Homo sapiens: one gene and its partners. The protein of the gene in region 3 interacts with the protein of the main gene of each other region in a pairwise test. Each region holds a gene or a part of one and is shown on either strand. Other genes may lie near its edges.

Evidence for each region.
Region 1: the proteins of SCAPER (region 3) and GDAP1 interact in binary tests that used the Homo sapiens proteins (3 or more experiments, as listed by UniProt).
Region 2: the proteins of SCAPER (region 3) and APPL1 interact in a two-hybrid assay, tested with the Homo sapiens proteins (one large-scale study listed by BioGRID and IntAct).
Region 4: the proteins of SCAPER (region 3) and NUP58 interact in binary tests that used the Homo sapiens proteins (3 or more experiments, as listed by UniProt).
Region 5: the proteins of SCAPER (region 3) and CHAT interact in binary tests that used the Homo sapiens proteins (3 or more experiments, as listed by UniProt).
Region 6: the proteins of SCAPER (region 3) and alpha-crystallin A2 chain interact in binary tests that used the Homo sapiens proteins (3 or more experiments, as listed by UniProt).

What each region holds. Positions count from the first base shown.
Region 1 is NC_000008.11:74,356,903-74,360,402, reverse strand, and holds part of GDAP1 (ganglioside-induced differentiation-associated protein 1), read right to left. Parts: intron 267-3,500; coding exon 93-266; intron 1-92. UniProt on the Homo sapiens protein: Regulates the mitochondrial network by promoting mitochondrial fission.
Region 2 is NC_000003.12:57,244,729-57,248,228, reverse strand, and holds part of APPL1 (DCC-interacting protein 13-alpha), read right to left. Parts: intron 2,154-3,500; coding exon 2,007-2,153; intron 835-2,006; coding exon 752-834; intron 37-751; coding exon 1-36. UniProt on the Homo sapiens protein: Multifunctional adapter protein that binds to various membrane receptors, nuclear factors and signaling proteins to regulate many processes, such as cell proliferation, immune response, endosomal trafficking and cell metabolism.
Region 3 is NC_000015.10:76,349,341-76,352,840, reverse strand, and holds part of SCAPER (S phase cyclin A-associated protein in the endoplasmic reticulum), read left to right. Parts: intron 1-1,552; coding exon 1,553-1,604; intron 1,605-3,500. UniProt on the Homo sapiens protein: CCNA2/CDK2 regulatory protein that transiently maintains CCNA2 in the cytoplasm.
Region 4 is NC_000013.11:25,308,125-25,311,624, reverse strand, and holds part of NUP58 (nucleoporin p58/p45), read right to left. Parts: intron 2,379-3,500; coding exon 2,343-2,378; intron 1-2,342. UniProt on the Homo sapiens protein: Component of the nuclear pore complex, a complex required for the trafficking across the nuclear membrane.
Region 5 is NC_000010.11:49,648,537-49,652,036, reverse strand, and holds part of CHAT (choline O-acetyltransferase), read right to left. Parts: coding exon 3,430-3,500; intron 2,530-3,429; coding exon 2,401-2,529; intron 154-2,400; coding exon 31-153; intron 1-30. UniProt on the Homo sapiens protein: Catalyzes the reversible synthesis of acetylcholine (ACh) from acetyl CoA and choline at cholinergic synapses.
Region 6 is NC_000021.9:6,498,044-6,502,002, reverse strand, and holds the start of alpha-crystallin A2 chain, read right to left. Parts: upstream 2,801-3,959; 5' UTR 2,230-2,800; intron 984-2,229; 5' UTR 809-983; intron 1-808. Other genes in the region: splicing factor U2AF 35 kDa subunit-like protein, read left to right, coding at 2,831-2,874. UniProt on the Homo sapiens protein: Contributes to the transparency and refractive index of the lens. In its oxidized form (absence of intramolecular disulfide bond), acts as a chaperone, preventing aggregation of various proteins under a wide range of stress conditions.

The DNA of each region.
Region 1 (3,500 bases), on a different chromosome or scaffold from region 3:
CTTCTTTTAGTGACCATGAGACATGCTAGGTCTCAAAATGAATTAAAAGAAAGTGTCAGACAGAATTCCAGGTCTTTAAAATGTTTACATACTACGAATCCTTGTAGTTGCATAAGCCGGGATCATGGAGTCCACAGTTAACTCAGGATGTAAAATGCAGCCATGTGTATAGGCATCCATTGGCAAGGAGTCAAGCAGCTCTCGGTAATGTTGTACCCGTGGGTAATACATGCTTTCTTTATCAGGCATTAACCTGGGTGTTCTTTCTAAAATACACACACACAAATATTGAAGAAAAAGTTACACATGAGTTGTTACACTCAAAAGCAAAACAAAAACACTATCCACTCATCATTAACATTTTCAACATATCTGTATATTCAAAAAACACTGTCTCCTCACCTCAGACATTCATTCAAAGTTTGAAATGGCCTGATGCACCAGACAAGATCCCAAACCATAATCACATTGGTATTCTCTCATTTCTTCACCTTGCAAACTGCACTCAGCCCTCAAGGCCCAGTTATTTATGCCATTTATTCCATGAAGCATTCCCTAACCTCCTACAACTGCCAACATCTGACTGGCTCACATGTGCCTTCTTCTATACATCCATAACACATTACACACACTCTGTTACAGCCCTTATCACACTGTAATTCATTGCATCTTTTTTCCCCATGACTGTCTTCAGGGAAAGGAACCTGCAATCCAGAGTCTAGCACAGTTCTCCACACACTTGAGGCCCTCAATAAAGTTTGGTTAATTGAATGAGGGCTCATTATGGAAAGATAATCAGGGGCTACTCTTTTCTAGGTGCCAACCAACATCAAGAGTGACCCTACTGACACATGTGAATGTGAATGACAATCTATATGGAACAGGAAAGGCCTTTGCTCAAATATCGCAGGTGCACTTTCCCCAGGAATTTCTAACAATTATCTCTGGAAAGTGGGTTCTACATACATCCTTATTTGCTAGTTAAAATCCAAACTGTAGAGTCCTTGAGGGCAGGGACCATGTACTGCTCTCTGTTAAATCCCCAGTGCCTAGTATAATGTTTGACATGTAGTAGGTGTTTAATAAATTACAATGAATACATTCCAAAATTTCCAATTATTATATAGATTACTTGAGCTGGAGAAGTGCTGCAGGAGTTAACATGTACACTCAGATACAAGGGCTGAAAATTTCTCCCAAGATCCCACAGCTAATTAGAGGCAGAGCTAGAACTAAAGTCATCTGATTCCTAATGTAATGTTCTCTTTGATTATACCATCATAACATTTTCAAAGGATTTTCATTTCATAGACTATCGAAAAAGAATAAAAGTGAAGGATGCAACCCAAAGGTCAGGGCTATGTCCCTTCAGAATCTCTTCCTATCTCTGGCTGTCAAACTGTCCCTAAAAAATGTCAGGTCTAATAACTATCACAATTTCAAAATATTAAGATATCTGCAATAACTTAACCATGAACATATCTGTGAGTTCTATTGGTTATCAAAGCCAGAAGCACTCCTGATATTGCCATGGATTGTGCCTACATTGCTAATGGAAGGAAATAATTCCTTTAAATAGAGATACAATTATTCCCTATCCAAGATCTCAAATCTCCTGAATTCTATTCATAAACCCCTAAGCGCAACAGTTCTCACACTATGGTCTGAGGATCCCTGGGTTTTCCTAAAACATGTTTGGGGGATCTACAAAGATATTTTTATAGAAATACTAAGACGTTAATTACTTTTTCACTCTTATTCTCTCTCAAGTGTACAGTAGAAGTTTCCAGAGGCTACAGGAAACATGACTCTATCACTCTGACAGCTAGTGGGATTGTGCTTAACCAGGCTAATATTTTAAGTTTTCTCAGTTTTGCTTTCTAAATGGTAAATATTGATAGCTATGATCCACATAAACAAATGCTCTCTGGTATCCTCAAAGACAAAGGGGTATAGAGACCAAAAAGTTTAAGAACTAATGCTTTAGGGGTCCAAGAACCTCAGGCTAATAACCCTAAATAGTACATTTTCAAATGCTTCCCAAAAGGTCCAAGTAATGGCTAGTGGCTCTGGCTGCTTTCTGGTACTGGGCCCTGGGGCTTCTCTCCAGAAGAGCATACCATTTCCTTCCTAGGAAAGTGAATGAGAGCAGGAAAAACAATGTCTAATTGCTTTCTGGGGAAGATCCATCAGGCCAAGCCCAAATTCTTCAAGGAGGACAAATGTTTAAATCCATGAAAATAATTTTCTTCTACTCAGTGTGCCGTTACTGTCTAACCATTTCCTGAAGCACTCTGTCAGAGCATGAGATACCCACTGAACCCAAGTTATCTCCCCATCTCTCTTTCTTTGTGCGCATCAAGCATGCCCTCTCCAGTATCACAGGGGCACTGCGCTGCCATCCTCACACTGAAGCACAACAGTATCTGCTGCTTCTGATAAAAGAGTTTTTCAAAGGAAAACTGGGAATTTCCTTTGAATTATAGAGGAGATCTTCCCTCTCAATCCCATCCTATTTTATTTTCCAGTTCTTCCGTAGAGTACCTTTATCAAAATACCAAAAGCAAGAATTTTTTTCTCAGTAATGTACCTCAATCAGGAGTGGGAAAGCAACATAAGGCATAGCGGGGCAGGACAGAGAATTAGGGAGTTTTAAGAAGCAGGCAATGAGAGGAGGTCCCAGCATTGGGGAGTGGGATTGCAACAGTGGAAATGAGGCTTGGTATTAAGCTAGAAGAACAAATAAGTTGGCACAAGATCCGACTTGCCGGAAGAACTGAGTAGGGGAAAAGTTTTATATTACACATAAATTTAGGCAGCAAATTATAAACCAGCAGATAGACATAAAGCAGAAAGATTTGATAAACAGCAGAGGAAACCAAAAGAAGCAAAAAATAAAATCAGAAAGAAACAATAAAAGCATTCTGCAGCCATGTAATGGAGACAAATGGGCCTCTACATTCTCAAGTCCCTGTAATGCTGAGTAAAATAACAATGGCTCTGAGCCATTTTTTTAAATTACATTTGGTTTTCCCAAGAGTAAAACATAAAAAGAAATTAGGGGCTTAAAGGCATAAGTTTTCATTATTTTACAAAATTCACTACTCTGGTTACCCATCTTTCCTAGTAAAGGCAGATAAAGGAGGCATTATTATGCCTTGTTTTCAAGAAAGACTCCCCTAGGTCTACTTGTACAACTTTCAAGTCTCCCTTACTACTAGCTCAATGGAAACAGATTAGATTTCATTCCTCACTCTAGCCCTTTGCTGTTTATTTTACTTAGACTGTATAGTGATTGCATCAGTATATAATATGCATAATACAGCTGAATAATATTGTACCCTTCAACTAGTCACACACTAGGCTATTTTTAAAAAATTCAATAATAGGCTGGGCACGGTGGCTCATGCCTGTAATCCCAGCACTTTGGGAGGCCAAGGCAGGCAGATCACGAGGTCAGGAGATCGAGAGACCATCCCGGCCAACATGGTGAAACCCCG
Region 2 (3,500 bases), on a different chromosome or scaffold from region 3:
ATGGTCTCTATATCACTGTCCATTTCCCTGCGAACACTGACACAGAACAGATTATTTGCTACAAATCACAACCAATAAAGAACTCCTTACCAATCATGTTTACCTGCATATTTGTTTCGGGTATGTTTTCTTAAAGAGAGGAAGAGCGGCATGGGTGGTTAAAACAACACGAATATATTTTAAAACAGGTTTACAGTTTATTTGAAACTTAGATATTTTGGAAACAATACTAAATTCAAAAAACAAATGAAGCCCCCCGAATGCCTGATTTTGGCGTAATTTTCAAACTGTTCTGCCCTGTGCCTTTAAAACAACAATCACTTTCATCTCTCTCCATACCGTGGACTGACCACATACACTGCTCGGCATTTTGAACCTGATAAGAACTGCTTTCTCTCTAAGCTTTCATGGCTTGGAAACAATATTTAGTAATCTCCCATCAAACTCCCACAATTTCAAGTTTAAAGATAATTTCACTTATGGGGAGTTACTATTATGTGTCTGTTATATTCAGACATAAAACTGAGTGTAGAATCAATAAAATTATCACTATTATGAAATTCAAAGTTCACAATCTGTGGAAAAAAGAGGTTAAAAAAAAACAAGAAGTAACCATGAACCACATAAGAAACTCTCATGGCAGGGAAAATATTCCCTCAGGAAAGTAAATGATAAATATCTTTACATTATGTCATTGAGCTGTTATCATTCACATCATTTCATTTTCAATTTTAAGGAAAAAAATACTTACTTCTGAACGCTTGTTCCAATATTAGCTAAAAATTCTTCCAGTTGTTCATTAAGATTTTCAGAACCCATCTTAAAGAAACTTATCTGGAGAGTGGGGAGTGGGGGGAATTGAACAATACAAAAATAGATTAAGCAATACTTAAAGTAAATCATATAAACAATCTCTAAGACACATGGTTAAGTAAAAAACAAAGGAATATTCCCATTTGTGTAAAAATACATTGTAGTTTGTGACTTCTACTGCACAGGGAGCCATTAAGGAAGTTAGACTTAAATTCCACTGCATATCCTTTTATATTTTTTGAATTGGAACAAGTAATATATACATATGGTTAACAATCTTTTAAAATTGGAAAATAAATTTTAAAGTATTTCCAATAAATTATATAAAGTATTTCATGTTTACTACAAAGATAAGTTTTCTATCTGAGGAATAATCAGTAAAGTACTCTTTTACCTAAATAGATTCAATTTTTTTTTTTTTTTTTGAGACAGGGTCTCGTCTGTCATCCAGACTGCACAATAAAACCTCACTGCAGCCTCAGCCTCCTAGGCTCAAGGGATCCTTCCATTTCAGCCTCCCAAGTTGCTGGGATCACCGAGGCATGCTACCAAGCCCAGCTAATTTTTTCATTTTTTGTAGAGATGGGGTCTCCCTACGTTGCTGAGGCTAGTCTCAAACTCCTGGACTCAAATGATCCTCCTACCTCGGCCTACCAAAGTGCTCGATTATAGGCATAAGGCACCGTGCCTGCCCTCAATTTTCTTTAAACTCTTGATTTTTAGGAGACTGACACTTTGTCTTATACTACCCAAATTTTCTAGCCCCCTTCCTGATGTACTCTTTGGGCACGTTGGAGTTCATCTATTATTTTTAACTCAGGAAGTATGCAAGGAATATGGGATAAACTCAAACTTGTTTATTCTTTTTCAGATCTATTATGAAGCAAGTGTTTAGTTGAAGCTCTAGCAATAGGTGTAACTCTGAAATTCATTTAGTTCTCTCAGTCCCCAGCTATGGTGAACAAGTGGTTTCATTTACCTAAAATATTTGAAATCTTCATTTGCAAGGAAAACCATTCTTCCTAACTTCCTTAAAATAATAGTCTGATGACATTTTAAAAATAACTTCTTAAAACACAGACATAAACAAGGATGTTGAAAATAGTTTATAATACCCTTATACTTAATGTAAATATCAAGCTTAATATAAAACTTTTAGGACAGTTATAATCCAAATACAGTACAGTATTTACCTGAGCTTGCATGTACCCAAGTAGAGGTTCTAACAATGCTATTTTCTTCTTGTACTGAAGAGTATTTAATGCACAAAAATAATGCATCATGGTCTGGTGTTGTTTCTTTCTGGATGTGTACACATCTTCTGTTACTTCATACTTCACCTTTGAATGAAAAGATTTAAATAATTAAGTAAATAATCTGCTATTATTTACTTAATTTTGTATTATCTTCAGTAGGAGCTGTGGAGAAGAGCCTACCCAAGGAATTGAGTATCACAAGCAATTGAGCATTAATGTTCCTGTTTTCTGATCTTTTAGAAATCCTTCAACATACTGGTTAAGCAAATTTTCCTGTTTAACTTCCAACCACATAATTTACAAAATGCACATTGAGCCCAGGCGTGGTGGCTCATGCCTGTAATCCCAGCACTTTGGGAGGCCGAGGCGGGACGATCACTTGAGGTCAGGAGTTTAAGAACAGCCTGGCCAACATGGTGAAACCGACTCTATTAAAAATGGAAAAAAAAATTAGCCAGGTGCAGTGGTACACACCTATAATTCCAGCTACTGGGGAGGCCGAGGCATGAGAATAGCTTCACCCTGGGAGGGGGAGGTTGCAGTGAGCCAAGATCACACCACTGTACTCCAGCCTGGGTGACAGAGAGAGACTGTCTCAAAAAAAAAAAAAACTGCATATTGAAAACAGAATTCTGTACGTAACTAAGAATGGTACAATAACTAAACTAAGCATGGCAGAGAAAGCTTACGACAAGGAGGAATGGCAGACAATTGTTTGTTATTAGCTTAGTCATTAGTCTTTGACTTTGATCAGTTCACAGCATACCATTCTCCCCTCCTGGTTCTCTCCCTATCAGTCTTCCTCTCTTGCACTTGCTTGTCTTCCTTCACCCATACTTGAAATACGTGTGCTCCCTAGAGTTCTTTTATTCAGACAACAAATATTTATTGAATACCTATTATGTAATAGGCATTAGGTTCTTCTGCCTTCCTGCTTTCCTTAGAATCCTCAAGTACGAAGAATATTCTAATATTCCAATACACCAATGACTCAATGACTCACAAATTTTATCTCCTCCCTCTCACCTTCCCAAGTGACAGAGTAAACACATCTCCAGCTGGGTTCTTTATGTGTGTTTATGTGCTAAAAATGTACAAAACTGAAGATAGTTTTGTACACAAAACCTGTTCTTCTGCTTTGTTTCTTACCTTTCTTAATTACTACAGGATCCATCCAGACATCCAAGAAATCTAGGACTCATTTTTTATTCCTCCTATTACCACAAGTCTTGTCAATTCTACTTAAAAAAATATCTCCCAAAAGTACTCCTTCCTCTCCATTTTCAGTAACAACCTTAGCTGAGGCCTTCATTGTATCTCTGCAAACTATTCCAATTCCTTTCACTGGATATCCTCTAGTCTTGTCCTCTTCACATTTTCATTAGTATGTTTGTTCTATAACACAATTGCATGATGTTATTCACCTACTTA
Region 3 (3,500 bases):
AATTTTACAGTATATAACATCATATCAACACTTAGGATTCTTCATATATTTTTAGAGCCTTAGGATTAAATTAAATAGAAAATACATTATGGACCAGGTGTGGTGGCTCACATCTGTAATCCCAGCACTTTGGGAGGCCGGGGTGAGCAGATCACTTGAGGTCAGGAGTTTGCGACCAGCCTGGCCAACATAGTAAAACGCCGTCTCTGTGGGCACCTGTAATCCCAGCTACTCGGGAGGCTGAGGCAGGAGAGTAGCTTGAACCTGGGAGGCAGAGGTTGCAGTGAGCCAAGATCATGCCACTGAACTTCAAGCTGAGTGACAGAGCGAGACTCCATCAAAAAAAAAAAAAAAGAAAATACAAATACATTATGGATAATTTTAAGAGTGTGCTCTTTCTAAATTCAGATTATTCATTCTTTTATTGAACAGGTAATTTTTGAGTGTGTAAGGTGTGCTGGGCACTGCAAATACAGCAACAAATAAAACAGATAAAAATTCCTGCCTTCACAGATCTTTCATTAAAGTGGAGAAGAGTCAAGCAAAAGACAAAAAAAAAATTAGTAAAACAAATAGTATGTCAGATACTATGCTAAGTGCTATGGCAATAAGTGCTGTGGAGAAAAGTAAGGCAGGAAAAGGAGCTAGGGACTTCAGGGAGATGATGTGCAGGTTTTTATGATGTGGGCAGAGAGGCTTCAACAAAGAGACAGTGATGTTTGAGCGAAACCAATTTCACATCTGTATCAGCTTAGTTCCTTATGTTTTCAACTGCATAGACAATGACTTATAATGATACAAATGATATCAGGATCTAAAGATTATATATATTTCTTGTGTTTATCTGATATTGATCACAAAGTACTAAGTCTACCTTTGTCTTACAAAAAAAATCTGTAACATAAATTTTGTAAATGCTAAAAAAAATTTCTTATATTGTTTATTTCAGATAGCATATTAGACTTGTAGAGTTAAATCAAGTGTTTTTCTATAAATAATTGTGCTCAAGAGAATGAATATAGATAGGATTTTAGTTTATAATGTGGTTCCTCAAGGTCTCTTATGTGTTACATTATAACTGAGTTACTAGAAAATGATATTAAAATAGCAGCTGGTTGTCTTAGGTTTCTGAAGATTTACATATTTTATATTACATTTTTCATTTTCCATCTACATGCAAAATTACCAGACTTTAAGATTTAGCTGCAGAATACATAGAGCTTTCATATTTGTACTTTTTAAAAAAATGATCAACACCTGTTGATATTTTAAGATAGTAAATTTGGCTTAAATTTTAGTTTTATTAGATAAAAAGTTGTAATTTCCAAAGTAGGCAGCAAGTTGTCCCCTGGTGATAATTTAGCAAGATGTAAGTCATTACTATTTATGAGAACCTGCACTACGTAACATCAGTTTCTTCAGCGTTTATATTTGGGCCCCAAAATATTCATACAAAAGTGGTTGCATGAATCAGAAGTATATTTAAAGCCACCCTTAGTGAAATTCTCTGTTCATAGCATTGATAGAAAAACACTTTTCTCTCCTCATACAGGATTTGGCACAGACTCCAGGTCAAGCGGAAAACCAGCCTTACCAACCCAAAGGTATGTCTCTATTGAAATTAAATTTCATGTGTTTGTTAGCCAAATGGACATCTTTCTTATCCTTTCCTCTGGAACTGCTACATTATATGTAAAATTTTATACATAACCTAAAAATATTTGAGATTCAGATACCAAGTATATTTCAGTAAGTAAAGAAATCGATTTTGTCATGAAGCATGAATGCATCCAAATATGTATAGAAATCTGTGGGAGTAAAAGAAAAGCACAAATATCTTTGTATAATTTATAATCATCTCATGCAAGATATATTAAATGGTAAATAATTACTAAAGAGCCGCTTTGTAATACAGGAGCCAGATCATTAATACTGGCCCACATTTCTCACATAAATGCTGAAATCACATAGGTTTGGTTCCTTATCCATGTTCAGAATAAAGTTATCAGTAATAGTAGCCCACAGTTTCCCCCCAAGTTCAAGTAGTTGAACTTTTGTTTTGAAAATAATTGTTTTACATGGAGAAAAAGTCATCTAATTGGCAAAGTCCAGGGCAAAAGATTTACAAGTTGTTTTTTTTTCCTATAGCATTCCTGCTGGGGTGTTTGCTGTGATCAGAGTTAGAGATGTAGAATTTTTACCACATTTTTACTTTTTTAAATATTCTGCTACCCAGACTGTAATTGAGAAGTACAAGTTGCTCTTTGGGTGTTATGACAGCATCTCTGATGAATGAGAACCTAATCCAGATCTTCTTCAATTCTTCCATTAGTTTGATAGTCTTTAAAGTGGCCATTTAGAGGTACACTCCCAGCAGGACCCTTTAGGGCACCCACCAAGAAACCCTTACTTGGTGGGGGTGGGGGTGTTACCTTGGACTCTTTCACACACACACACACACACACACACACACAAAGTCCTCTACAGTGGACAGGTGTTGAAAAGTGCACAGAAGAAAATATAACTAAAGCTATTACAATATCATGAAAAGAAAAAAAAAAGACGTTTTATTGACTCAGGCACCCAGAAAAGTTAAACAGAAAGCTATGCAACTTTTCAGAAATTCAAGTCCACATCCTTGTCGGTACCATTTGTCTGAGCAAGAATTAGTCTGCAAGTTCAGTTCTGCCCTGACCCAGTCACAGCCCTTTTTTTGTTTTGTTTTGTTTTAACTACTGGAGGATACTTGGGGAGAAATCAGCAAAATGTGTTACTGTTCTTACAAAACAATTTCATTTTGAATAAATTAAAATGCTTAGAAAAATCTAATGTATTTATTTTCAATTGTACAGCAGTTTTGTTTTGTTTTGTTTGCCACTAAGAAGTATAAGCATTTTTTTCTTACTCTTTCTCCTGATCATAAAGATGAGTCACAATTTGTTACATTGTCTGGAAGACACAGTCCCAGAAGCTGCCTCTCTCTGCTTGGTGGACTGAGGCCTGTGGAAGTCTCAACCTTCTTTCTTTTCCAAGGGACCATCTTCCCTGATTTTCATGCTTTCCCCCAGTTACAGTAGGCTTAACCCACAGAACAGCAAAGGGGGAATTGGTCTCTCCTTTGCTCAGAAAGGGTCATCACTATGTTAATGACAGCTCATAATATGTTGCTTGATTTTTTTTTTAATGATGATGCCTAAGTTGCCAGTTTGCACCTTGGGTATTTGTTCCCCTTTTGCCTAGATTAAGTCCTCATAAAATGTCTCAAGATATTTTGAGTTCATTGTCCAGGTAAACCTTTAAATATAAAAGCAGCTCTTGGTAATACCACATTCCTATTGCCCAGGAAGAATTTTGGTTTTCAAATACCTACTGCCTGTCTAGCTGCAATTGTTTACTTTACCTATGTCACTGGCCAGTAAAGCTCCTATCATTCATTCCTACTGCTTTGTTAGATAGGCTGTGCTATATTTGAATAATTTTAAAGATATACTTAAAACTAC
Region 4 (3,500 bases), on a different chromosome or scaffold from region 3:
AGTGGGCAGATCACCTTAGGTCAGGAGTTCGAGACCAGCCTGGCCAACATGGTGAAACCCCGTTTCTACTAAAAATACAAAATTAGCTGGGCGTGGTGGCGCATGCCTGTAATCCCAGCTACTCGGGAGGCTGAGACAGGAGAATTGTTTGAACCTGGGAGGCAGAGGTTGTGGTGAGCTGAGATCACGCCATTGCACTCCAGCCTGTGCAACAAGACCAAAACTCCGTCTCATAAAAAACAAAAACAAAAAGAAAACACAAACAAAAAACCCCCACAAATATCCTGGTGATTCTGCCCAATTTAAGGTTCCTATTAGCTCTAGATTGTCTTTAAAATAGAGTCTAAAGGCACGACATATACCTCCCTTTCCTATCTGGTCCCAACCTGCTCCTCAATTCTCAACTCTGCCCACCATTTCCACCTCTGATTTCTAAGCTCCAAAACCAAAATACTTCATATTTCCCAGAACGCTTTTATGACTGGGCCTTTGCACTTGCCACTCCTCTCTCTGAAGTGCTTCCTGCCCATAAAGTAAACCATACTGTTTTCTTCCTCTGCCTTTCATGGTGCCTCTACATCTTTTAGGACATTTATCGGATTATACAAGAACATGTTAATATACCTGCCTATCCCTTTCACCTCACAACAGACTGACTGTCTTGCTCCAACCCTTAGCAGTTCCCAATGTCATCATCAAGGACCATCCTCACCAGCAGTGCCACAATATTCAATGTTCAAGGCATTATGTAGACACAAGGCTGCATGGTTAGGAAGTAGTAACTGCTCAAACAATATTAAATAAAGAAATGTATGAATGACCTGCATGACTTAACCTGAAATCACTGAGAGAAAAGAAGCCAGAAACTATGCTTCTGGATTGCCCTGATCACAACTAGAAGTTCCTGCCAGAGTGCAGTGCTTTGAAATCACGTATGGGGTTACAACCTCAGAAAACAAGACTCAGGCTTGGTGTGGCTCAAGCCTGTAATCCCAGCACTTTGGGAGGCCAAAGAGGGCACGTGGCTTGAGGCTAGGAGTCCATGACCAGCCTAGGCAACATACTGAGACCTTGTCTCTACCAAAAAAAAAAAAAAAAAAAAAAAGGCCAGGCACAGTGGCTCACGCCTGTAATCCCAGCACTTCGGAAGGCCAAGGCGGGTGGATCACCTGAGGTTGGGAGTTCGAGACCAGCCTGACCAACATGGAGAAACCCCATCTCTACTAAAAATACAAAATTAGCCAGGCGTGGTGGCACATGCCTGTAATCCCAGCTACTCAGGAAGCTGAGGCAAGAGAATCACTTGAACCCAGGAGGCGGAAGTTGCGGTGAGCCAAGATTGCACCATTGCACTCCAGCCTGGGCAACAAGAGCAAAATTCCGTCTCTAAAAAAAAAAAAAAAAAAAAAAAAAAAAAATTAGCCAAGGGTTGTGGTATGTGCCTGTAGTCCTAGCTACTTGGGAACCCCAGAGAAGATCGCTTGAGCCCAAGAGTTTGAGGTTGCAGTGAGCTGTGATGGTGCCACTGCACTCCAGCCTGGGCAACAGAGGAAGAACCTGTCTGATAGGGGAAAAAAAAGCAAAAAAGAAAACAAGAAGATTCACTTGCTTGTGTTTGCAGCTGATCCAGTCCAAAACTTTGCTGATAAACAGATGTGTTGTTTTCTGTTAATAACAGGTGTAGCATCCAAATGAAGAAAGTCTGCCAATCCTTAACTTAAAACTCAATTTAAGAGCTTCTGAATGTTCTTTCATTTCCTTTTCCTTTCCTTTAACTTAAAATTCAATTTAAGAGCTTCTGAATGTTCTTTCATTTCCTTTTCCTTTCCTTTCACATTGTTTACTGCCATCCAGATTGAAAGCTGGCTGAAACCCTAGTTATTCACATTCCCTTTAGCGTTAACACTACAGAAAGTATTATGTCTTTGGATATTAGTTCAATACCCTCAATTTTATAGATAACTAAAAGCCCCAAACATTACCTAAGGCCTCACAAGTATTTTAGAGGCTTAATTCCAAAATTTCTGGCTTAAAGTTTGGTGTTTTTTCCACTAACTGGAGTCAAATGACTAAAAAAGTAATATGAAATAAACTTCCACATTAAAAACAATTTCTGCATTTAAAATACTTTTCTGAATTATAAAAGTACTCTACGAAGTCATTCCTTTTTTTCACTACTCAAATACTGAAAGGTTCTCCGATAAGTCACCATCTGTGATACACACTTTTTTCTATACTCCAGCTCTGTGAAATATTAGAAGAGAGAAGAGTAGAAAGATCACTCAATTTATTAAAATTATTAGAAGACCACAGAGCTGGGATCTTTCCTCAAAAATTCTTACCCAGAGTTAATCCTGTAGTTATAGTTGTTGCTATTCCTGGGGACAAAAAGAGAAATAAAATTTAATCATCAATGAAGATGACATTCTTTAGGTTTACCTGTCATAAGGGAAAGACTTAAAATCACCCTCAGGGAGTGACAACACTTCTAATTAGAACAATACATATCATAGTATCTGCCACTAATCACGCATTTTTCCCATAGCACTGGTTTTCATATTACAAGCCATACATAATTTGATTAAGGAATAAAATTTATAAAATGCAAATAACTATTGCTTATAACAAAATTAAGCAAGACCAAAAAAAGCAACTCCAAACAAAATGCTATACTGAGCTGTCTCAAGCAGCTCACTGACTAATCTGCTCATATTTATTCCTGTAGTTCTTCCATTTTCTAGATGTGGCTGTGAAATGTGCTGCACTCAAAGCTGGAAGATCAACGCAAAAAGTAGTAAGAATGACCAAGAGGCTCTAAGGGTAGAAAATAAGGGGTAAATAAAGAAGCAAACTTTTTAAATGGTCAGCTCCAGTGAAACATTATTTTTCCAGCTGTACTAAAAACAAAAACTTTCTATTGTTTTGAAACCTTCAAGTCCTTTACCTATTGCCCTTTTCCCACTTTGTTTTAATAATACAAAAATGTAAAACATCTCTTAGGAACGTAAATTATAGACCAGGCATGGTAACTCAGGCCTATAATCCCAGCACTCTGAGAGGCCAAAGCAGGAGGATCACTTGACCTCAGGAATTTAAGACCAGGAGGAGACCTCTTCTCTACAAAAAGTAAAAAAGTAAAAAAAAAAAAAAAAAAATTAGCCAGGCGTGGTGGTGCACACGTGTGGTCCCATCTACTCAGGAGGCTGAGGTGGGAGGATCACTTGGGCCCGAGAGGCTGCAAGGCTACAGTGAGCCATGATCATGCCACTGCACTCCAGCCTAGACAACAGAGCAAGACTGTGTATCTAAAAAAAGAAAAAAAATAGAAATTATGTTACAGTAAGGGTGCTGATTATCTCACGTATGTTAATGTTCCAAATTGATAAAGCTGGCTTAAACCACAATCTCCACTAAGGAAAAACACTACATTATATAATCCAAAAATTTAAATTAATATTTGTATGTTTTCCTTCGTTATATCAGAGTAGATGACAGTCAAT
Region 5 (3,500 bases), on a different chromosome or scaffold from region 3:
AGGGTACAGACTCACTCCACCTTCACTCACCTGTAGAAGGCCAGCTGGAGGGCCACCTGGATGAAGGCATCAGGGCTGCATTTCTGCTTCTTAATGAATGTTTTCCCATAGTTGTCAAACTTATAGACAATGAAGTCAAGGTTCTTTACTATTCTGAGGAAGAAAAAGAAAAGATGTTTTTATTGCATGCAAAACAGTATGCATGCATCTGGGGTTTCCCCGGGCTTCTAGAGCCTGGTCTGTGTCCTAGCGTTCTGGAAGGTGCGGACGTAGTCCCTGCCCTTCAGGAGTGCACTGAGGTGTCAGAGACATGCCTTGACCTATGAAAGTGTCAGAAGACAAACCAGGCCAGGACTACTATGACCCAAGGTGAGCTCAGCTGAGTGGGGTGTCGGCCCTGCTCTGGAGAGTGGGTGGGGAGGTGGGCCTGGCTGTGTTAGTGAGTCAGGGATTAACTGTGACACAGGTGACATGCCCGGGATTTTGTAATTCACTGTCGGAGTAACAGGAACATTTTCCAAGTCTGCACTGAGACTCTGGAGCACTGGCTGACCCTCATATTGAACAATCTCCTCCTCCATCAGGAGTCTGGGGTCTGAGCTGACTGCCCACTGGAGCAGTGTCTGGCAAGGTCTATGTGCCTCCCCACTGGAGAGCGCATAGCCTGAGTGGGAACCCCGAGCCCACACGCACACCTTCTGTCGGGACTCCATGCTCCCTGCCTGCCTCTCCTTGAAGTATTCCTCCTGCTCACAGCAGCTCAGCTCTCGGTGGGGCCAGGTGCTAGGAACACAGGGGGACTTGGAGGAGACCCAGTTCCCATGAGTACTCGCTCCTTAGACCTACCTGTTGACAGACGTCTGGGACAGACTGAGCTCACTATCACCACAGCCACCTGGAAATCTCTCCCCCAAGCTGTGCCCACTCGGGCCTCACCCACTTGTATGGGCCCCTCAGGACCCCCAGGAAGAAGCCTCCTTCTTCCCCATCCATGGGCCTTTCCTGGCTCTCCTCAGCCTCTGGAGGGTGGAGCTGGGGGCCTTGGGGAATGTGGGGTCTGCTCAGGTCCCTGGAAGTGAGTGGACTCCTTTACCCACTGAGGACTCAGCAGCCCACCAGCTCACTGCCTTGGCCCCTGACTTAGCTCCTGAACAACCCTGCAAAGCTGAGATGTGAGCACCACTTTATAGAACACCTGAGGCCCCTCCATGCCCACTGAAGCCAGGCAACCTCTCCAGCAGCTCCCAGTGGATGGGTCCTTCCCGCTCTTCAGCTTCCCAGCCTGGCCACACTCTGTCCTGCTCACATGTGCCCTTCCCACAGCCTCCTCAGGGGCGTCCCCATACCCCCTGCACAGAACCCTCCAGTGGCAGGGCAGGCTCTAGGCCCATAACAGGACAGTGACACTCATCACAGTGTGGCCCAACTTCCTTTTTGTGGCCCCACTCTGGCCATTCTCTCACTTGCTGGTCTCCAAACCAGCCTTCATCATTATGAACTTGTACAAGCTTGAAGAAGCTGCCTTTCTGCCTCTTCCCCATCTGCTTGCACCATGAACTCCTATCCATCCTTCAAGGCCCGTCTCTACAAGGCCCTCCCTCACAGTCCTGACAGAGTTCAGCTTCTATATTTTTGTGGGTTCAGGTCAGCATGGCTGTTTCTGCTTTTGGCATTAATCTTACTGTATCACATGTTTTGGCCTGGGAGTCTACTTATTCCACTCAAATATGGAGTGCAGGTCCCATGGTACTTAACTTTCTGTGTTCTCAGAGCCTTACCACGGGCCGGGTGCACACCAGAGCTCTGCACATGTTTGATGAATGAATGAGCAAACCAGTGAATGAATGCATTCGTGCTTGCTTACTGAATGGGAGAATCAACAGCTACAGTGCAGACGTGGTTGCCAGGATGTGGCTGCCACCACTGCTTGCTGCTGCCCCAGGCCCTCCTGCCTGGGTCCCGTTAGGGCCTGAACGGCCCCCTCCCCTTGGGGAAAAAGGCCCCTTTGTCAAGTTGCACTGTACATTCAAGCAAATTTAAATAGCTTGAATTCAAATGACCTATTCAAACCAGTTGTTTATTACTCCCCCTAAAGCAGGGGATGATTTCCCGGCCTTGACTCTGCTCAGTCAGGTGAAACTGAAAAAAAAAAAAAAAAAAAAAAAAAAAATAGCCCTGCGTTTGCATTTTAGAGAAATGATGGATACTTCAGCAAGGTTATTTCCCCAGAGTTGTATCTCTCCTTTAATTTGACTACATGAGGGATGGGGACGAGGTGGAGCCCAAGGAGAGGCAGAGGAGCTGGGGTCTTTGGAAACTTCCAGGGAGCCTTGGGAGCTAGTAGGCAAGGGCGGGGTGGTCCCTAGGGGACCCCTCAAAGGAGACTTCGGTTATCCTTACCGTTGAAGTTTTTCTGCCGAGGAGGCTAAGTGGCCTTGAATTTCCGGGGAGCATTTCCACCGCAGCCTCCGGGGGGCGGGGAGCTCGCTGACGGAGTCTGCTCGGATCAGCTTCCTGCTGCTCTGCGTCCTGCGGGCACAGAGGCAACCTCCTGAGGCTCTGCGGCCAGACAGCTGTGGGAGGCATCTCTTCTTTGCTCTGTGCAATCATCTTAGCTGTCAGTGTTTGCGGCCATGGAGTTTCAGGGGGTACGAGCTGCCCCTGAACCACCGTGCAGATGAATAAACTGAGGCTCAGAGAGGCCACCAAAATCATTAAGTGGCAGGGCCAGGGCTCCATCCAGTTCCGCCTGACTCCAAAACCCATTATTTCTTTTCATTGTTTTCCTATTAGACCATGTTACACCCTTACAGAAGACTTGGAGAGAAATTTAAGAGCAAGCTGTGTTGTTCTCTTCTACAAGGTTTGTGCCTACTAGGCTTGGTTTAGGTTTCAGTAACCCTGAGTTTCATGGAAGAAATTGAAGACTTGGATGCAGGGAGAAGATTCTAGGAGAGAATGGGTAAAATTGGGAATAGAGGAAGGAATACCATGTGTTTAGGGCACAGAGGAACCCTGCTGGGGAGCTAAGGAGGGACCCAGCCTTGGGATTTGGAAGCAGTGAGACTCAGAGAACTCCCCCTGTGCTGGGGCAGCCGTGGGCCTGGCCCTGACTCAGGATAAGCAATAGGTATCGATGTAGGCTTCCCCTCTCTCAAGGCAGAGGTTCCTGAGAATTCCTTGCCATGCTTCTCCCTGACTGCCGTAAATCTGCTGCCTCCTATCCATGGCCCGTGAAGCACATGATGTCGCATACAAAGCTGGGTTTCAAATTCATCGTGTGTGTGTGTGTGTGTGTGTGTGTGTGTGTATAGTACACATTTTTTTCAAATTCATCTTTTGTTAAGACGCTTTCCAGACTGACACAGCCCCCAGCGACCACCCACATTTTTTTGGGCCCAGCATGGCAGCCCTGGGATCCAGACTCACACGTGCTTGAGCAGATGCTCAGTGCACTGCACCAGGACGATGCCATCGAATGGGGAGTGTTCGCACACCAC
Region 6 (3,959 bases), on a different chromosome or scaffold from region 3:
AATGGAAACTCCTACCTTTCAGTGGAGCTTCAGTTCTAACCCTATCAAATTATTAGTGTGTAAGTCTCAATCTTCAACTAAGCTGGGAGGATTCAGATCCCAAGACTGGCCTTACCAGAGACCCCTGCCAGCCCCAGTGAGGTCGAGTAAACAACAGTCGTTTGTGCTGGTACCAAGGCTCCAACTATTGATGCCACTACTTAGTGGCAATCCCTGAAGGCCTGCTTCAGGTCCTATCTGGGTTGCCAAAATGTCAACCTCAAATAATGAAATTCAGGAAATATGATTAAGTATAGAGTTTATTTGAGCCCAAAGCTTGAGGATGGCTCCCTGGGCACATGCCCCTAGGTTGCCCTGAACATATGTTCCCATTAGCAGCAGTCACAGTGGGGTTTTAAGGAAAAGGAAGAGGCAGTCCCTAAGTTGTTAGCAAGAATTTGCATTAAAATAACAGAAGGTGCTGATTGGCTATGCATCGTTCTTAGCATCACTAATTCCATGTGAACAAGAAGATAATGGGTGAGGCAGCCTGTCAGGAGCAAAAATTCCATCAAACAATTGCCCTGGACAGTTGCTTCTATGGTGGAAGAGGCGCTGAATGAAGTCCCACACTCCTGCCTCTCTGGGCCTGATCATTCTGCACACCTCACAGAGCTCAGACTACCCTATTTTTCTTTTCTCAGGAAAAATGGGTGGATGGTACTGGTGGCCCTGCCTGGTCTGATCATCTACCCTGGTTCTAGTAACCAGATTAATTCCTTGTAATAGAGCTGTGGATTTCAGTTCAGTTCCCACGCACAGACCTTACCTCTGCTTTCTCCGACCACTTCTCCCCCACCCCAGGTACTTCACAGCTGAGAGCCTCTTGCCAGCTTCCAACTCTCCAGCAGTCTTTGTTCCCAGACCGTGTCCTGAGGCTGCACTTTCTGGACATGCCCACCTGCTGGACTGGCATCTGTCTTGTCACTTCTCTGGCCTCACCTCTGCGAAAGGAACACAAAAGTCAGGACCCCAGTTCACTCTGTCAAAAGGAAAAGAATGAGCTGAAAGCTGAGTCATGTAAGCAGCTGCCTTTCCTTTCGTTCCTAAGCAGACGGCTACAGATAGAAGGTTCAACATCCGCTTCTCTTATGTAAAGTGCTGATTTGCTGAGGAGTGAGCTGTACACAGTCGACTGTTCCCAACCTGCTTCTTTTCTCTTGCAACGTGTGGATTACCACACTGTTCCGCTTTCCCCTCCAGCCCACTTTTCCCCTTTAAATACTGAAGCCCTCAAAGTCATCTTTGGAGAAAGGCACAGACCACAGACTGTTTCTGTGATACCGTGTTTTTTTTCCTCCCAGGCATTGTCCTTAACCTTGGCAAAATAAACTTCTAAATTGATTGAGCCCTGTCTCAAGATACTTTTTGGTTTAAACCTCTGAGGCCCTACTGTTTCTAATACAGGTTTCCAGTTTGCTCATCTTTCCCAGGTAGGAAGATGCTCTGTTGCCAAGAGAAATGCAATTCTAACACGCAAATCCGCCCAAACACTAGAGCTCAGCATTCAGCTCTAGCCGAGCTAAGAGGATCCCATGGTCCTGCCCCACAGTCTGGGGCTCATCTTGTGGAGGAGGTAAGTAAAATAGGCCCTGTCTCTCTGACTTCTACCTAATCAGAGTTGATAGTTGCGTTGGAAATTAGGTAAATCGCAGGTGAGTTGATGAATGTGGGAAACCAGATGAAAATGGCTGCTTGATGGGGTTAAAACGCAGGAGAGGAATAGAACCCTTCCAACGGAATGGTTCCAGCCTTGTGACATGAGGAGACTGAAAGGGTATCCCAGAGGCAGGTCACTGGCCTTCCAGCTCCACCTGTGGGTGGCCTTGGCCAGGCAACTGCAAGAGTGCAGGGCCCCGGGGAGGTCGCACCTGGCAAGCGCTGAGGGAGGGTAAAGCGGAGAGGGGTGTGAGAAGAGAAAAACAACACAGAGCGTCCGAGCTATGTGAGGCGTGCGAGGTTAATCCGGCCCGGAGAGACAGGTCTATGCGGCTTCAGCGGTCCCCACCCATGCCTGGCAATTGTTTAAAGGCACTATTGCTCCGGACCCGCTGCCTTCACCCATGAACTTCCTTTCCTGGAATTATGATATAAAGAACAACGTACAGCCAATTAATAGCTTGTTATTTTCATGTAAATTCTTGGTGAGCTATTTAAGAACTGCCCCCCTCTTAAGCTTTATAAACCCACTTGTCACTGTTGCAAATCCTATGTTCAGGGCAACTTGAAGCTATGCTCCCGGGTTGCAATCTTCAAACTTGGCCCAAATAACCTCTCTACTTATATCAAGTTTGCCTCAGCTTTTTTTTTCTTCTAGGTCGACGGTTCCCGCCCCGCAAGGGTGCAGGGAAGGGGACGCCCGCACTTCCTAGTGCTCCCTTAGCTGGGGTCGAGCTGAGCGCCCCCCACCGAGCCCCAGGCGGCTCTGTGGAGAAGCCCCTCGGCCCCGGGTTCGGTCTGCACTGCCAGCCCCCAGTCCCCGGCGCGCAGGATCCAGCAGGGCCAGCGCCGGGCGGGCGAGAAGGCGAGAGAGCTAGGGCCGGGCGGGGAGGGCACCGGCAGGGGGCGCGGGTTCCCAGGACCGAAAAGGCGGAGCCTCCCACGCGCACTACGTGCTCCCTACGCGCATGCGTCCCGCCCACGCGCAGGCAGCACCTCGCCTGACTGGGTAGCGCTGCCACGTCGGGGCGGGGAAGAGCGTCGTCGCGTCCGGGTGACGTCTCCCGCGGGCGTCGGCAGGGTCGGCGGCGTCGGCAGCAGTGTCGACGGCAGCGGCGGCGGCGGGTGGGAAATGGCGGAGTATCTGGCCTCCATCTTCGGCACCGAGAAAGACAAGTGAGTGGGAGCCCCCCGCCGGGGGTTGGGCGCGATCGGGGCGCAGGGTGGTTGAGGCGGTGGGAGGGCGACCGGGGAGGCCCAGGCGGGCCGGCGCGGCGGTGGCGGGGGAGGGGCGCGCGGCGGGAAGGAGCGGTGGCCCTTCCGGCCCCTTGCGCGCCCTCCGGAGCCGCCGCCTCGTGGGCCGCGCGGCGGAAAAATGGAGCGGGGAGAATGAATGGGGTCTCTTTTCGGGGCGCCGCGGCCGAGCTTTCTCCGGCCTTGGGGTCCGAACTGGCTGATCGCCCGACGTCCGGGCCTCCGAGTCGCCGGCTCCCGGAAGCCGCCTCGAGCCGCGCTGAAAGTTGCCTGGAGCATCCGGGCCTTTTGGACGTGGACACGTTTGTTCCAACTTTCGGCTGTGAATGTCCTGTCGAGCAAGCTCTGGTACCAGCCTCGCCAGTATTCAGTCGCTTATCTAACTTAGGGTCCTAAGCGTTGGTGTTTTATCCACTTAGCCAGCCTCTTGCCTGTTTAAGCGACCGCTGGGCCGGCAGTAAGGAGATATGACGAGAAAAAGTATGGTGGAGACTACTGGATTAACTATCTAACCACAAGAGACGTGATCCGCTCTTAACATACAGGTGCTCCTGGATTTACCATGGGATTGCGTTCCGATAAACCCATCATGAATCGAAAATGCCTTTAATACCCCGATAAACCCATCATCTAAGTTGAAAATTTGTAAGTCGGTGACTGTTCTTGAAGACACAATTCTGATATAAGGAAAAAGATGTTTTGATTTTTTCCTTAAGGTTGCATGCCTTCCCTAATCAATCGTTAGGTTAAAAGCAAAACATTTAATTTCAGCTTTAATTGCCACCTTGGCACGTACTAATTTCCAGTGAGTTGGCTGTAGTTTAGACTAAATGGAATGTTTTCAGACGTTTGAAGGATAATTCTTACTTTGAAAACCTAAAGACTCAGCATCTGGCTTAATCTACTCTTTAGTTATCTTGGCATTCTTCAGTGCCATACAAAGTTAACATGACTTTATGTTTTCAATGATAAACCCCTAAGTTTGTCATAGATGTTTTTAATGCCAC